Linked DNA regions of Homo sapiens. The protein of the gene in region 2 purifies or fractionates together with the protein of the main gene of each other region. This does not show direct contact. Each region holds a gene or a part of one and is shown on either strand. Other genes may lie near its edges.

Region 1 (3,817 bases), on a different chromosome or scaffold from region 2:
GTGGAGAGCGTGAGCCCAGAAGTTCAGGAGTTCAAGACCAGCCTGGCCAACATGGTGAAACGCCGCCTCTACAAAAAAATACAAAAACTAATGGGGGGCGGTGGCAAATGCCTATAGTCCCAGCTACCTGGAAGGCTGAGGTGGGAGGATCACTTGAGCCTGGGAAGTCAGGGCTGTAATAAGCTGTGGTCATACTGCTGCCCTCCAGCCTGAGCAACAGAGTGACACTGTCTCAAAAAAAAAAAAAAAAAAAATGTTATTGAAACATAGTCACATTCATTCACATCTGTAGTGGCTGTGGTTACTTTTGCACTACAATGATGGAGTTGATTAGATGCAACAGAGACCTTAAGGTCTTCAATGACTAAAACATTTACTGTCTGGCCCTTTACAGACAGTCTGTCAATCCCTAATTTATTATATGCCTTCTTCTCCCTCAGCTAACTAATTGCCTCACCCCAGGAATGTTCATTACTACCTCTTCTTTGTTCAAGCCCCAGCTACTCCTCAAAACCCAAAATTCCCTTCTTCCCCTTTCCCAAATCCTAACCATATCAGCAGTTTGTGTGGAAGTAGGTAAGCAAAACACCATTCGTCATTATGTAAAGCAAGGCATTGGAGATGCGGTCCCTACATGTACAAGGGGAGGCTGATTACCCCCCAATTCATTTCCAATTTCTCAAAGCAGGTTGGCAGGCTAGCACCTAGGAAGGAGAGAGTGAGCAGATGATGCAGACAGAGCACTGAGAAACTCCTCAGTAACTCATGAGAGTTCATGTGTCAGTCCCCTTGTCTGCTATGTCATCCTTTAGACATCAATTCAAGACAGCAAAATTCAAAAAAGAAATGAGGAAGAAAAAGGTGATGAGGGGCAGAAGGAAAATAGAAGAGAACTTGTCACTTCACAATGTAGAGACTGTCACAAACTGTGGTGAATGGAAAACTATTCTGTTCACCTGGGCGTGGTGTCTCACGCCTATAATCCCAGCACTTTGGGAGGCTGAGGCGGGCAGATCACTTGAGGTCAGAAGACCAGCCTGAGCAACATGGTGAAACCTGGTCTCTACTAAAAATACAAAAAATTAGCCGGGCATGGTGGCACATGCCTGTAATCCCAGCTACTCGGAAGGCTGAGGCATGAAAATCACTTGAGCCCAGGAGGTGGAGGCTGCAGTGAGCTGTGATTGCACCATTGTTGCCCTACAACCTGGGCAACAGAGCTAGACCTGTTTCTAAAATAATAAATAATAATAATAATAATTAAAAAAATAAAATGTACATTTCTAACTTCATTTCAAAGTTAAGGCCAGGTGCAGTGGCTCATGCCTGTAATCCCAGTATTTGGGAGGCCGAGGCAAGGGGATCACTTGAGCCCAGGAATTTGAGACCAGCCTGTGCAAAATAGTGAAACCTTGTCTCTAAATTAAAATAAAATAAAAAGTAAACAAAGTCAAATTTTTTTTAAAAATCAGAAGAGAAACGTTGAACTGCATACTTCCAGGCCCAACAGAGTAGAGGTCAGCACAGGCGCAACCAGGTTGCATATCTACATACAATCTGCCCTGGCAGGAAGGATATCCTTTTCTTCCAGGTTTAACCACTCTAGGTGACCCAGATTATTTTAAATTATAGCGTCAACAATTTAAAGCAGCTTTTACTGTAAGGCACAATCTCAATAATTAATAGGGCAATATAATAAATACATAAAAGCTCAGGGAGAAAACAAGACTCTTGAATGGGCCTGGAAGTTTTGCCACGTCCCCCGAAGTACTCTCGGTTGCATCCTTCGGAACCTTTCAACACATATACATATACCTCCCTCATCCTTTTGTGAAGAGTGTCTATTAATCACTAGATTAAGAGGATTTGGATAAAATTTATAAACGTACAAACTGTGCTACCAAGGACTGACACATTTACTTTTCTGGCTCATCAGTTTATGTCCTAGAAAAACTCCAGATCCACATTAACCAGCTGTTTCCTATTTTACATTTTACGATGGTGTTTCCACTTTCACCTGCAAAGTGACTAATAGTAATACCTATTCCAGTAATTTAAGTAACACCATTTAGAGTAATTTCATCTTTAGTACTGTATTTATACTACTAAGAAAGCTGCCAACGATTCAAGCTGCACTCACTGGTGAAACCCTATGCTATATATGTAATTAATTTATTTCCTAAATTCTTACCTCCCTCCACCCCCTCCATTGGAAAATAAACTCTAAGAATGCAAAAGTTTTTGTGTGTTTTTCTTTAACGCTTAGAGCAGTGCCTGGCACCTAACAGTCAATATCTGCTAACTTTGATGAATGAATGGTATATTTATATTATGCAATATTACTATGCAGCCATGAAACACAATGAGTTAGAGTGGTACCAGCTAATTTAATGGAATTTCCAGAAGTATGAAATTAAGAAAACAAGAAGAAAAGTGTCAAAAATATCATCCCACTTTTTTTTTTCTTCCCTGAAACGGAGTCTTGCTCTGACACCCAGGCTACAGTATAGTGCTGCCATCATGGCTCACTGCAACCTCAAACTTCTGGGCTCAGGGAATCCTTCCACCTCAGCCTCCCATGTAGCTGGGACTACAGGTGTGTGCCACAACGCCCAGCTAATTTATTTTAAATTATTTTTTGTAGAGACAGGGTCTCCCTATGTTGCCCAGGCTGGTCTCAAACTACTAGGCTCAAGTGATCCTCCCACCTCAGCTTCCTGAAGTGTTGGGATTACAGGTGTGAGCCACTGTGCCCAGCCTAATCCCACTTTTTAAAAAGTATACCCCCAAATCCATACACTGGTGAGGAAGTGGAGAACGTGGAATCCTCATACACAGAATTTAAAATGGTACAGCTCTGGAGAACATTATAGCAGTTTCTCAAAGTGTTTAACATAGCTACTACACGACCCAGCAATTCAATTCCCAGATATACACCTGAGAGAACTGAAAGGATATGTCCACACAAAAATTTGTAGAGGAACTTGTACACACTTGTTCACAGTAGCATTATTCTTAATAGCCCAAAGTGGCAAAAACGCAAATGTTCATCAACTGATGGACAAATAAAGCATGAACAACTGATGGACAAATAAAGTATATCATTCAGCATATAAGAAATGAAGTGCTAATACATGCTACAACAGGGACAGACCTTGATAACATTTTGCTAAATGAAAAAAGCCAAACAAAAGGTCACATGTTGTATGATGCCATTTACATAAAAATACCTAGACTAGGCAAATCCATAGAGACACAAAGATCAGTGACTGCCCAGAGCCAGAGGGAGTGGTGAATGTGAAATGACTACTAATGAGTACAGACTTCTTTTTGAGGTATTGAACATGTTATGGAATCAGATGGTGGTGATCAATGCATAACTTTGTGAATATACCAAAAACCACATGAAAGGTACACTTTAAAAGCCTGAATTTTAAGGTATGTGAATTATATCTCCATAAACCTGTGATTTTGTTAATATACGCTTATTTGCAAATGAATACATGGATAATGAGGAATAATATGAAAGGTTAATGACAACCTTGGTGATAGGGTACCGGAGACTGGGAGAGGAAGATAAGTGTTGAGGTAGAAGAAGACAAAAAATAAAAGACCAAAACAATAATCCAAAGCCAGGGGCCATGAGTTGGGAGATGGAGCAAGACGAAGTGTACAAAGAAATGAGCATAAATCATAAAAATGAGGGAACTAGGGTTGAAAAACCCAGTAAGTAGTTTGTAATGGGGGAGACGAAGCAAACCTAAGTAACTGCAATGATTCAACAGAATTTGCAGAAAATGCAGAAGGGCGAGAAAAA
Region 2 (3,817 bases):
CCAACTCCATGGGGACAGAAGCCCCTGTGCTCAGGACCCTTCTAGACCACGCCCTATGTGCCCCTTCATCTGAATGTTCATTTTTATCCTTTAAAACATCCTTCGTCATAAATCAGCAACAGCAAGTAAACTGTCTCCCTGGCTTCCATCAGCTGCTCTAGCAAATTATTTAACCCAAGGAGAGAGTCATGAGAATCTCTATCTTGTAGCCAAGTGGGACAGAAGCGTGGGTAAGCTGGGGACCTATGGACTTGCAACTGGTGTTTGAAGTCGGGGCAGGATCGTGGGACTGAGCCCTTGACCTGTGGGGTCTGCGCTAACGCCAGGTAGTGTCAGAATTGAATTGAACCGTAGGACACCCAGCTGGTGTCAGAGAATTGGTCAGTGGGGGAAAAACCCACACATCTTATCCCAGAAGTGTGGAGTGAGTAGGGAGAAAAACAGTTTGGTTTTTCCCTATAGAACCCTCATACATCAAAATGAATGAATGTAACTAGATCAATCACTCATCATAATTTCCAACAATTTGTCAGAGAACAGCCATATAATTAAGTTATCCTCTATTGATTTTTCTTTTCAAAACCAACCTGCCTTTCCCTGAGGAAGAAAGATCCATTCAGAGGCCCCACATGGCTCTCAGAAGCCGATCTGGCTTCAACCGCAAGCAAGCTCTCGCCTAGAGGACCTGTAAGGACGTTTCTCACTCAGCCCTTGCCAAGCCTGGACAGGGTGCCAGGATTTCCTCTTTCTCGCTAGGTTGCCCGGTAGGATCTCTGTCTTTTGAGCATGAGAAAGCAACAGGGCAGGCTGATGTCCCCTCCCCGTTCCCACCCATGGGCAGAAGGCAGTGCTGTTCAGTCATTGCCCAGCGTGGGCAGAAAGGGCTCTGCTGCAGGCTCCCCACCACCATGGGGCTGCTCAGAGCAGGGGCTACCATATCAGGCAGAGACCAAAGCAACAACTGAAGGTGTCTTTGTCCAAGCTGGTTGCCAGCAAGAGGTAATCAAATACTGGTTGCCAGCAAGAGGTAATCAAATATACATTTGTATCACAAAGGCCTGAATTCTGAAGGTGACACAGAAGTTCCGCTTTTGCAAGGTATTGCCCCTGGGCTTGATCCTCCAAGTTGGAGCAGAGGGCAGGACCTTTCCTTGAGAAAGGACACACCCTGAGCAGCTCCGTAAGGTCAGGTGCAGCAGGATCCCAGCTCTGCAGGAAAAATCCCCTATAGAATCACACCTTGGCACAAAACAGAAATACACACTCCCAGTTTATGTGAATAGAGCTCCAGACTTCTCTGCCCTGAGCAAATTCCTGATGTTCCTAAGATAATGCAGAAAAAAGCCAACCACTTAGAGCTCCAAGGCAAGGCAGCCTGGCTCACCTCTTTCTCAGGATATTCTGTTTTAATCTCTGCTGCCATCTCCACTCCAGCCGAGCCTCCTCCCACCACCACGATGAACCGTGAGCGCTGGACCTGGAGAAGAGGACATGTGAAACAGGGACATATGAAACACACCTACACATCCACCTCTGTCTGCTGGTTCAGCCTGTGGTGTGGCTCCCTGGGCCAAAGGAGGGCAGAGAACCCTTTCCACATTTTGAGTCCAAACGTGCTTCCTCCCACCCACCTCGCAGAATTGCTGTGGAAGATTGTGGATCTAAGCCTGCTCTACAAAACAGAGCCTTATGAAAACAGGAGTGGAAGGGACCCGTGAAAAGCCCCAGGAGAGGAAAGTCAGAGACATACCAAGGGCAACATGAGCAGGTTTAGGGTGCTCACATCCTGGCTCCAGCAGCAAGTTCAAGGTCTCTTCCCAGGAAAGTCTCTTCCTAGTGACTCTCCAACTCTATGGCTACAGCCAGCAGCTCTGAGTAACCCCGTGGCCTCCCAGCTGCAGGCCTAGGCATCCCCAAGGCTGTCCTTCCATCTGCCCACACTGCCCCATGCCTTCAGTGCACAGCTCACCTGCCTCACCATGTCCTCATAGGCCTGGATAGCGGCCTGCTGGCTGGAAACCTCATTAAACTTGCCCGGGAAGGGCCCAGTGCTGCCCGTGGCCAGGATAAGATGAGAGAAGGGCAGGGCCTGAGAGAAACCAAAAAAAAAAAAAAAAAAAAAAAAAAAAAGATGAGGGTAGGGCAGGGCAGGGCAGGCCTAGGCCTCTGCATCCTACTCCCGGCCTGCCAGCCGGGACAAACCAGGCAAAGAGGCCCCTCTAGGCACCCGAGGCAGCCCCCATGGGAGGGGGTGAAACCACCACACTGGTTAGCCCAAAGGATGGCACTAGAACCTGGGGAAAGACCTAAGGAAGTAGAGTTTACCTCCGCGTGGAGAATGTGGGGGCAACTGGAGCCACCCAGCATGGCAGTGGGAGGGGTGCCTGGAAGCAGGAGGCAGGGCTGCAGGATAGGACACTGCCCACGGGAGTTAGCTCAGAACCTCCCGGGTGTTTTAGAAGAACCCTCCTCCTGCCTCCGCCAGGAAGAAAAGAAAGGGAAAGAAAGAAAGACTGATCAGTAGTGGCATCACATCTGTGAACAGCCACTGCACTGAGCAACATACCAAGACCCCATATTAATTTAATTTTTAAATTAAAAATAAATAATAAAATAATTTAATTTTTATTAAATATTTTATTAAAAAATAATTTAATTTTTTTAAATTAAAAATAAAAAAAATTTTAGGCCGGGCACAGTGGCTCACACCTGTAATCCCAGCACTTTGGGAGACCAAGGCGGGCGGATCACCTGAGGTCAGGAGTTTGAAACCAACCTGATCAACATGGCAAAATCCCATCTCTACTAAAAATACAAAAATTAGCTGGGCGTGGTGCCATGCGCCTGTAATCCCAACTACTCAGGAGGCTGGGGCAGGAGGATCGCTTGAACCTGGGAGGCAGAGGTTGTGGTGACCCGAGACCATGCCATTGCACTCCAGCCTGGGCAACAAGAGCGAAACTCCATCTCAAAAACAATTAAAAAAATTTTTTTTTAATTAAAAAAATTGTAAACAAAGAAAAGGAAATCTTGTTTGGAGCCTAAATATATAAAGTTGACAAAAACAGAGCTGCTCCAATGGGAGGGGCTGGAGGGCCTGGACTCCACTCAGCCCCTACTTTCCCCTGAACCTCCAAGATGCCCTCATGGAATCTTCCAGGGCTCTGAAACGCATGGCTGGAGACTGCAGGACCAGGGGACACTCAGTAATCTTTCCAACCAGGAAACTATCTGGCCCCATTAATTCAAGAAGGGCTGGGTCACACGAAATCACAACTCATCAAGGAAAGGAATTGTGTTTCCTTTTGTCAACGCCCCCTTAGCTTCAAACACCAAATGGGGCTGGGCTGGACATGACACTCATCCAGAGCTGGTGGCAGCTTATCGATGGAGCTGAAGTCATGGCAGGTGTGTTCCAGGCTCCATGATGCACATGTGAGGTGGGGGAACACACAAATGAGTGAAGGGAAACCTCTGCCCCAGTGACGTCCCGATCCGGGGGATGTGGGACCATGCGTGTGCCTTTTTGTTCTAGACAGAGCCGAGGGCTGGCCAGGCCTGGGAGTTGTCTGGGACGCTGGCTTTTAGAGCATGGGCTCTGGGCTAAAATTGCATGGGTTCAAATCCTAGTTCAGTCTCTTACCAGCTGTGGGATCTTAAGCAAGCCATTTAACCCTTTAGCTTCTCTGTAAAATGAAGTTATACCACCTTCGCCATAGAGGCACGGTAAACATTCATGAGACTTACGTAAAGGCTACAAACAGGGCCTGGCATGCAGGAATTACACAAGAAATATCTGCCACCATATTCTTGTGGT

The links.
Region 1: the proteins of AIFM2 (region 2) and SPECC1L purify together in Homo sapiens (affinity purification with mass spectrometry; one large-scale study listed by BioGRID and IntAct). This does not show direct contact.

Annotation. Positions count from the first base shown.
Region 1 is NC_000022.11:24,277,015-24,280,831, reverse strand, and holds part of SPECC1L (cytospin-A), read right to left. Parts: intron 1-3,817. UniProt on the Homo sapiens protein: Involved in cytokinesis and spindle organization. May play a role in actin cytoskeleton organization and microtubule stabilization and hence required for proper cell adhesion and migration.
Region 2 is NC_000010.11:70,119,123-70,122,939, forward strand, and holds part of AIFM2 (ferroptosis suppressor protein 1), read right to left. Parts: intron 2,090-3,817; coding exon 1,970-2,089; intron 1,478-1,969; coding exon 1,385-1,477; intron 1-1,384. UniProt on the Homo sapiens protein: A NAD(P)H-dependent oxidoreductase that acts as a key inhibitor of ferroptosis.